2 separate regions of the Homo sapiens genome follow, and region 2 is linked to region 1. The links come from fine-mapping of genetic effects on gene expression. A gene starts in region 1. The other region holds a variant in brackets. All regions are shown on one strand. Distances are from middle to middle.

What was found. PIP is the estimated chance that this variant, and not a neighbour inherited with it, causes the effect.
Region 2: its variant is fine-mapped to the expression of DNAJC12 in adrenal gland (GTEx, PIP 0.96).

The regions. Positions count from the first base shown.
Region 1 is chr10:67,835,576-67,841,033 of GRCh38, forward strand. It overlaps DNAJC12 (DnaJ heat shock protein family (Hsp40) member C12), which reads right to left and starts at 2,613. Exons shown (of 5, transcript NM_021800.3): 1 at 2,359-2,613. The coding sequence starts at 2,436.
Region 2 is chr10:67,809,913-67,814,912 of GRCh38, forward strand. It overlaps DNAJC12 (DnaJ heat shock protein family (Hsp40) member C12), which reads right to left. Exons shown (of 5, transcript NM_021800.3): 3 at 1,612-1,751. Among named protein-coding and RNA genes, the nearest start is that of DNAJC12, 26 kb to the right of the region's middle. The variant G/A (reference allele first, on the strand shown) is at 2,927.

The DNA.
Region 1 (5,458 bases):
GCTACTCAGGAAGCTGAGGAAGGAGAATCACTTGAACCTGGGAGGCGGAGGTTGCAGTGACCTGAGATTGCACCACTGCACTCCAGCCCGGCAACAGAGTGAGACTCCATCTCAAAAAAACAAAAAAAAGAGAGAAAAAATGACACACACACACACACACACACACACACACATATATATAAAGAAGTGACAATATTATGACAAACATTTCATTAAAAATAAATAATTGTTATCTAGATATGATATGCCATTGACAGACCAGTAAAATACATCCAGTAAAAGGAATGTTGAGACAAGGAAGTATGACTCCACCTGGTAACCATATTTTGAATATTACACATTAACAACGAGATTATTTTCTGTAAGGCTGTCCAAAATGAATCCTCCTTCTATGTAGATTGAAAAGACAACAGCATAACTTCAAAAGACTGACTATGCAGCCATAAAAAAGAATGAGTTCATGTCCTTTGCAGGGACATGGATGAAGCTGGAAACCATCATTCTCAGCAAACTAACACAGGAACAGAAAACCAAACACCACATGTTCTCACTCATAAGTGGGAGATGAACAATGAGAGCACATGGACACAGGCAGGGGAACATCACACACCGGGGCCTGTCGGGGGGTGGGGGAGAAGGGGAGGGACAGCATTAGGACAAATACCTAATGTATGCGGGGCTTAAAACCTAGATGATGGGTTGATAGGTGCAGCAAACCACCCTGGCACATGTGTATCTATGTAACAAACCTGCACATTCTGCACAGGGATCCCAGAACTTAAAGTAAAATTGAAAAAAAAAAAAAAGGACTGACTAAATAGGTCACAAGATTATGGAGATATAATGACCCTTACTGTATAAGCTAGCATGTATTTTTTTAAATCCAAATTGTCAGCCTTATCAAGTTAAATTATATTCCTTTGATTTTAAATTATTCCTTCAAAAATTGTTTGATAATAGTATAATTTCAACTGTGAATAACACATGGTAAAAATGGTAATAAGCTTTCTCAATTGCTATAAGCAAATCACCACCAACATAAACAAGAATAACACATTCTTGAGAAGAAATATGCAACTAAAAGACCATTATAAGCTATTCTGGGGGCGGGGCAGTTTTTTTAATTTCAACGTGTCTAAGATAACTTCCTCAGCATGGCAAAAATAGAGATTTTAATCCTTTGTGTCCAGTAATGCATTCTATTCTTAAAACAAAACTAAGCACATTTTATTAATGAACTACTGCCTTTATGAAACAACAATAAATATAAAAACATTTTGCTTTACAATGTTAATTTTACTACTTAGATTTTAATAAAAATAAATAAAATAAAATACATTAATTATAAAACATAAATATATCCTAATAACATGATTTAATAATATATAATTTAATAATGAATATATTTTATATTAATCTCAACATTATTTGAAATATTGAAAAATTGGAAATAAAATATTTAACAATAAGAGAATAATTCAACTGTGGTAACACAGCAAAATAAAATATTTTGCAACCACTAAAAAGTGTACAAGGAAAGTTTAATAGCATGGAAAATTCCTTGTTATAATACGAATGGGTAAAAAGCAGGAATCAACAAGTACATATAATATCCTCCCAAACAGGTCTTTAAAGAATATACATAGAAAGAATAGTGGAGATTAATATGCCAAAATATTAATACTGTTATCCTTGGGAGAGAGAATTATAAATGATTTTTCCATAATTTAAAAAACCTCTACAACCTTTATAATTGTTTATTGAGAACTTTAAAAATTTTGTTTTCTTACAGATCCAGTGAACAGCTACAGAGTTTTCACATGTTTTGTTTCAGAAGCCACCCTTTCAAGAAGTAATTTCTGTCACACAATTTGAAATATTAACATAAAGGGATGCTTCTTTGTTTCTATTTTGACTGCTCACATAGGAGTACACATTTTAATAAAATATATTAAAATCCCTAATTTTATAAGAAATTTCATTTCACCTCAATTATGAGTCACCATAATAAAGGTATAGCTTATATATACTGTGAAACACTGCCATCAGAAATTACAATAAAATTTCAAATATTTATTTTTAATATACTATATTGTGAAACAGCATATGGCCATGTGCCAGAATACACATATTTAATCAGAAGCTTCCGTAAAATTCCCATAGGACACTATTCAAGTAAAATCCCAACATACATTTAAATTCTTAACTTTCTCTGAGCCAAAAGTGCTTTAAAACAACACAAGGTTAGGTTTGTAGGCAATGTGACTAAAAATTCAAAGTTAAAACCTTAAATAAAAACTTGAAATACTATTGTGAAAAAGAATACTGTTGTGATAAAAATATTATCCACTGTCTTACCGAAGATAGTTCATCACATCCCAGTAATGTGTAGTAATCTTCAGTATCTTCTGACCTGTAATTCAGTATTGCATCCATTTAGATGACTTAATCAGTCCTTCTTCCCTCGGAAACAAGAGGCACAGTGAGCTTCGAATTAACAGGAAGAAACTCTTTAAATCTGAATTAGAGCAGCATGTTCCACATAGCAAAAACTAGCTTTAAGACTGGCCACAGTCAATACACCAGATGTCATCCTAGACCTTTGTAAACTCTGCCTCTCATTGGCTGTTTACAGAGAAGAAAAGAACAGTCCACGTGTCTATTATTGCAGTGCTGCCTGGGATCTGTAGTTTGAGTTTATATAAGAGATGCATGTGAACCATTTGTCTTATGAGTTAATAAAGACTGTCTATTTTCAGAAACTTGCCACATTAGCCACTTCTCCATCTCCTATATATTTTTGTCTCTATCCTTTAAAAAAAAAAAAGAAAAAAAATGTGAAGCAATGTGGTAAAATCTTAGGATGTGTTAATAAGGATAATGGGAGCTTTTCTTAGTGTTTAAAATACTTAATTTTATTTTTTATTTGTTTATTTTCAGACAAGGTCTCACTCTGTTGCCCAGGCTGGAGTGCAGTGGTGCAGTCTCAGCTCACTGCAACCTCTGTCTCCCCAGCTCAAGCGATCCTCCCACCTCAGCCTCCCTAGTAGCTGGGACCACAGGCACATAGCACCATGTCCAGCTAATTTTTGGTTTTTGTTTTGTTATGTTTTAAGAGGAGGGGGTTTTGCCATGTTGCCCAGCCTGGTCTCGAACTCGTGAGCTCAAAGCGATCTGCCTGCTTCGGCCTCCCAACGTGCTGGGATTACAGGCATGATCCACAGCGCCCAGCCAATAACACAGTCTTGATTTTTATGGAGCTTACGCTCTGATGGAGGAAGACAGCTGAAAAACATGCAAAAAAAAAAAAAAAAAAAAAAAACACGATCATTTAAAATAGTGATTTGTAAGCCAGGCATGGTGGCCCACACCTGTAGTCCAGCTACTTGGGAGGCTGAGGCAGAAGAATCACTTGGACCCAGGAGGCAGAGGCTGTAGTGAGCCGAGATGGTGCCACTGCACTCCAGACTGCGCTACAGAGCAAGACTCCATCTCAAAAAATAAAAAAATAAAATAGTGATTTGTGCTTTAGAGAAAATAAAATAGGACAATGAGAAGAACTGTATGATAACTCGGGTCAGATGGCTGTGCTATTTCTCCTGGGTTGGTTCTCCAGACTCAGGAGTGTCTCTAGTCTGAGGTAGGTCCAGGCAATTTATGTTTCAGTTCATTTTGGCCCTAAGAAACACAGTTCAGGTCTGGGATTTAGAGAACAAGGTGAGTGGTCAGGGACACAACACTTTGACTGCCTTAACACTTTTTTTGTTTCATTTTTCAGAGAGACAGGGTCTCGCCATATTGCCCAGATTGGTCTTAAACCCCTGGACTCAAGTGATCCTCCCACTTTGGCCTCCCAAAGTGCTGCGATTACAGATGTGAGCCAACATGCCTGGCCCTTAACACTTTAAATTCCCCCACCTGAGGGGAAAAAATAGTTTTTCTTTTAGCCCACCTATATACATCTTTTTAAAGGTTTATTTCTGAAGAGAAGCAAGAAAAAGCACTGAAACACCATTTTTTACTAATCCTTCATTGTACATGCTGTCTTGCTAAAAGTTCTATATAGAATTTTAAGGCCAGGCACGGTGGCTCATGCCATAATCCCAGCACTGGGAGACCGAGGCGGGCGGATCACGAGGTCGGGGGTTCGAGACCAGCCTGACCAATGTGATGAAATCCTGTCTCTACTAAAAATACAAAAATTAGCCAAGCATGGTGGCACGCACCTGTAGTCCCAGCTACTCAGGATGCTGAGGCAGGAGAATTGCTTGAATCTGGGAGGCGGAGGTTGCAGCGAGCCGAGATCGTGCCACTGGACTCCAGCCTGGGTGACAGAGCCAGGGTCCATCTCAAAAAAAAAAAAAAAAATTAGATCACAATATCTTGATCTAAATCACTGATAAATGGCCTTTTAATGATGTGAAGTTGCCATGGTGGAAAGCAGTATGGTGGTTCCTCAAAAAATTAAACATAGAACTACCATGTGACCCCACAATTCCACTTCTGGGTAAATACACAAAAGAATTGAAAGCAGGAACTTGAAAAGATATTTATATACTCATGTTCATCAAGGCATTAGTCATAATAGCCAAAAAGTGGAGGCAATGCAAGTGTCCATCAACGGATGACTAAACAAATGGAATGTTAGGGCTGGGCATGGTGGCTCACACCTGTAATCCCAGAACTTTGGGAGGCCGAGGCAGGCAGATCACTTGAGGCCAGGAGTTCGAAACCAGCCTGGCCAACATGGCAAAACTTCATCTCTACTGAAAATACAAAAAAGTTAGCTGGGTGTGGTGGCACATGCCTGTAATTTCAGCTACTTGGGAGGCTGAGGCACGAGAATTGCTTGAACCCAGGAGGTGGAGGCTGCAATGAGCTGAGATCACACCACTGCACTCCAGCCTGGGTGACAGAGCACGACCTTGTCTAACACAAACAAACAAAAAAGTGTGGTATTGGCCAGTTGCAGTGGCTTATGCCTGTAATCCCAGCACTTTGAGAGACCAAGGCAGGAGGATTGTTTGAGCCCAGGAGTTCAAAACCAGCCTGCGCAACATAGTGAGACTCTGTCCTTATTTTTATATTAATAATATAATTTTTTTTTTGAGACAGAGTTTCACTCTTGTTGCCCAGGCTGGAGTGCAATGGTGTGATCTTGGCTCACCGCAACCTCCACCTGGGTTCAAGTGATTCTCCTGCCTCAGCCTCCTGAGTAGCTGGGATTACAGGCATGTGCCACCATGCCCGACTAATTTTGAATTTTTAGTAGAGATGGGGTTTCTCCATGTTGGTCAGGCTGGTTTCAAATTCCAGACTTCAGGTGATCCACCCGCCGTGGCCTCCCAAAGTGCTGGGATTAGAGGGGTGAGCCACTGTACCCGGCTTAAAAGTTTTTAAAGTGTGTGGTATCTTCCCCCTGGCTCTCTTACTCCTGTTCTCACCATGTAACATGTCT
Region 2 (5,000 bases), 26 kb before region 1:
GGGTGCGCTAAAATTTCAGACTTCACCACCATACAATTCATCCATGTGTCTAAAAACCACTTGTATTAGTCCATTTCACACTGCTGTAAAGAACTACCTGAGACTCAGTAATTTATGACGAAAAGAGGTTTAATTGACTCACAGTTCCTCAGGCTTAACAGAAAGCATGACTGGGAGGCCTCAGGAAACTTACAATCATGGCGGAAGGTGAAGGGGAAGAAAGGGCCTTCTTCTCATGGTGGCAGGAAAGAGAGAGAAGGTAGAACTGCCACATACTTTTAAACCATCAGATCTCATGAGAACTCACTATCATGAGAAAAGCAAGGGGGAAATCTGCCCCCATGATCCAATCACCTCCCATCAGGACCCTCATCCAATTCAACATGAGATTTGGGCAGGACACAAATCCAAACCATATCAACACTTGTACCCCAAAAGCTATTGAAAATTTTTTGAAGTTTTTAATTTAAAAAAATGTGGCACCCCTGAGGCTGTGGCTCGTTTGAGGAATTCTCCCAAAGGAAATTCCCAAGATATGATCCTGTGTGTGATGCTACAAAAGTACACCGTGATTTGTCCTGCCTTGTGGGTATAGGGACTAATAATGTTCCCAAACAATGCTTTTCCGTTCCAGAGGGATTATACTATTTAAACAAAAAGCAGAAACACAGGGTTGATGGTGTGAAGGAAAGGGAATTTATGAGATTTAACAATCTAGCCAGGTGCGATGGCTCATGCCTGCAATCCCAGCACTTTGGGAGGCCGAGGTCTTTTATCAACAATTTGCTCAAGTCTTCTAAAATAAAAACTATGAAGAAGGAAATCTAAATGTAACCCTGAAGGGCTATAATTTAAGAGATGTGAATCATTTTATACACTAATTCTAACAACTGTCCCTGAAAACTTACCTATGAGGTAATTTCTGTATTATAAGTCCCATGTCATAGAAAAGTGTTCCAATGGAGAGAATCTAGGTAATAAATCATGCCTAAATCTTTAAAATTACATTTTGTCTATAATATATAAAGGTCAATGTTGAACAAAATAAATATATGACAGTAATTATAGTGAATATTTTGATATTTATGCCTTTTAATGACATGAAGAAAGATAACACAATGTTTTTAAAGTCTAACAATTCTTTCACCAGAATGTTTAATAGGAATAATTCATGGCTTTCTCTGACTAATCAGATCCTGCCTTTTTAATGAAAATTCTAAGCCTTGAAAAGAGAGCAAGCTGACATAAACTAAAAAGATGGAGAATGTGAATTTACAATGGTTAAAACTCAGCAATTCATGAGCAACTTGAGAAGTACATTTATTAGAGCTCATAAAATAGTAAGCAATAACAGGGAGTGTGTATACTGAAACAAACAGCCAAAGAGATTGAAAGAAATGTAGTCACAGGCTCTTCTGGCACAAATTCATTGCCTTTATTCTGATGAGCTTCTCTTCATGGGATTTACGGACACTGAATTATATCCAGACTCTGCTAACTTCTTGGTTTTCTCCCTCCTATCGCCTAATGACTCTTTAAGCTACTACATGAGTCTAATCCATGGGCATCCTGAGCTTCACAAATTCACGTCGCACCCAGCGAGAAACCCACCGTCTTCACTGAGTCATTCAAAGCTTCCCACTGCTGGAATGGCATCGACATCTGGCTCCTTCGCCAGTGGTCATAGCGGGCTCGACTCTCTTCATTGGTCAGAATCTCCTTTGCCTTCTGCAGTTTCTGAAAAGTCTCCACTGGAAAACAAATCAAGAAATGAGCACTTCTCTCTCGGAGAGGATATTTTAAACTCCAAAACTATCCAACTGCTCTTACTAAAACCATGACTGCCACTTAATAGCTATGTGACCTTGGGCCAATTTACCTCATTAAGCTTTTGTAAAGGGTATCATAAGGACAAGCAAGATCATGGATGTAAAGTGCTCGGCACAGTTTATCCACTCCCTGTATTGTGCCTCAGTCATGTGCCAGAGGCTACTCCCGGTGCTGATGACACAGATGTGAATAATAGACATTATTAGCAGGGGAAAGAAACATTTGTAAACATTGAAAAAATACTATTCCACCTTATAGGAAGAAAACTACCTTTTTTAGTGCTGGGTGTGAAACAGGGCAGTAATTAGGCAAGAGGGACAGTAAAACTGAAGACTATAAAGACTATAAAACTGAAGACTATAAAGACTATAAAGACATGACTGAGGCACAATACAGGGAGTGGATAAACTGTCCCAAGCACTTTACATCCATGATCTTGTTTGTCCTTATAAAGCAGGAAGGAGCACGGTGACTTAGAGGAAGTAGTAATTGCCAGTGTGGCTGGAGGACACAAGGCTAGGGAAAGAACGATGAGGGATGGGGCTGTAGAGTAGACAGACAATAGCTCAATCAACCAGGGCCTGAGATGTCATGTTAAGGATGCTGGCCTGCTTTTTGTCGTAAGAGAAACGGGAGGCTTTAAGTATAATAAATAACATGGTAGATGCTGGGACAAATGGTAGCTTGTCACTAATCTACTTGACCAGATGGTATATAATAGAAACCTTTTATGGCTCTGTTAGAAACACCTCCAAAGTCTCTTCTGCTCCTCAGTGAAGTAAAAACTTTCTGCAGAGCAGAATACAAGATTTATATACAGGCCGGGTGCAGTGGCTCAGGCCTGTAATCCCGGCACTTCGGGAGGACAAGGTGGGTGGATCACGAGGTCAGGAATTCAAGACCCAGCCTGGCCAAGATGGTGAAACCCCATCTCTGCTAAAAATACAAAAAAAAAAAAAAAAATAGCTGGGGGTGGTGGCAGGCGCCTGTATTCCCAGCTACTCGGGGGCTGAGGCAGAGAATTGCTTGAACCTGGGAGGCAGAGGTTGCAGTGAGCCGAGATTGTGCCACTGGACTCCAGCCTGGGCGACAGAGC[G/A]AGACTCCATCTCAAAAAAAAAAAACAAAAAAAAGTAGCCAGGCACGGTGGCCCAGGCCTGTAATCCCAGCTACTCAGGAGCCTGAGGCAGGAGAATCGTTGGAACCCGTGAGGCAGAGCTTACAGTGAGCCGAGTTTGCACCACTGCACTCCAGCCTGTCCGACAGAGCAAGACTCCATCTCAAAACAAACAAACAAAAATTCATATGTTGAATTCTTAACTCCCAAAATGATAGTATTAGGAGATGGGGCTTTTGAGATATGATTAGATCATGAGGGTGGAACCCTCACGAATGGAATCAGTGCCCTAATAAAAGAAACCCAGACAACTCGCTCACTCTGTTTCCCCCATGTGAAAACACAGCAAGAAGACAATTAGCTAGGCATGGCGGTGGGCGCCTGTAATCCCAGCTATTTGGGAGGCTGAGGCAGAAGAATCTCATGAATCTGGGAGGTAGAGGTTGCAGTGAGCCAAGATCACACCACTGCACTCCAGCCTAGATGACAGAGCGAGACTCCGTCTCCAAAAAATAAAAAATCAATATACAAATATCAGTGGTGTCTCTACACAGTAGCAATGAACAATCTGAAAATGAAATTAAGAAAATTCCATTTATAAGAGCATCAAGAGCCGGACCCAGTGGCTCATGCCTGTAATCCCAGCACTTTGGGAGTCCGAAGTGGGCGGATCACGAGGTCAGGAGTTCGAGACCAGTCTGGCCAACATGGTGAAACCCCGTCTCTACTAAAAATACAAAAAAAAAAAAAAATTAGTTGGGTGTGGTGGCAGGCGCCTGTAATCCCAGCTACTCAGTAGGCTGAGGCAGGAGAATCACTTGAACCTGGGAGGCGGAGGTTGCAGTGAGCTGAGACCATGTCATTACACTCCTGCCTGGGTGACAGAGCAAGACTCTGTCTCAAAAGAAAAAAAAAAAAGCTTCAAGAAGAATATAATATTTTTAAAAAATTGAACAAAAGAAGGAACTACACAATATTGTCAAAAGAAGCTAAAGAAGATCTAAATAAATGAAAAGACATCCCACGTTCATAAAGATTTACTATTGCTAAAATGATAATACCCCCCAAACTGATCTGCAGATTCAACATAATCTCTATCAAAATCCCAGTTGCCTTTTTTGCAGAAATTGACAATCTAGTCCTAAAATCTGTTTGCAAATACAAGGGACCCAGAATTGCCAAAAAAAAAAAAAACTCTTGAAAAAAATAAGAGCAAAGTTGGAGAATTCACACTTCTGAATTTCAAAACTTATACTACAAAGCTACAGTAGTGAAAACAGTGTGGTACTAACATAAGGATAGACATACTTATAAATGGAATAGAATTGAGAATCCAGAAACAAACCCTTACATTTACAGTCAATTGATTTCAACAAGAGTGCCAAGACAATTTAATGAAGAAAAAAAATAGTCTTTTCAACAAATGGTGCTAGGATAACTAAATATCAATATATAAAAAGCATGAATTTAGATTTCTACCTTAAGCTATAAACAAATATTGACTCAAATGGATCACAGATCCAAATGTAAGGGTTAAAACCATAAAAAACTGGGAAAAAAAAAACATAGGAATAAATCTTTGTGACCTCAGCTTAGGCAAGAGCTCCTTAGATATGACACCAAAAGCACAAGCAACAAAAGAAGAAATAGATAAATTGGACTACATCAAAATTAAAACTTTTGTGCCTCAAAGAATACCATGAAGAAAGTGAAATGACAAACCATGGAATGGGAAAAAATATCTGCAAATAATATATCTGATAAGGTACTTATATCTAGAATTTATAGAGAACATTTACAACTCAATAATAAGACAAATAACCCAAATGCAAAATGGACAAAGGGCTTGAATGAACATTTCTCCAAAGAAGATATACAAATAGCCAACAAGCACCTGAAAATATCCTGAACAGTATTAGTCCTTCAGGAAATACAAATCAAAACCATAGTGAGATACCACTTTATACCTACTAGGATGGCTAAAATTAAAGGATAATAATTGTCTAGAATGTGAAAAAATTGGAACTGTCACACATGACAGGTGGGAATGTAAAGT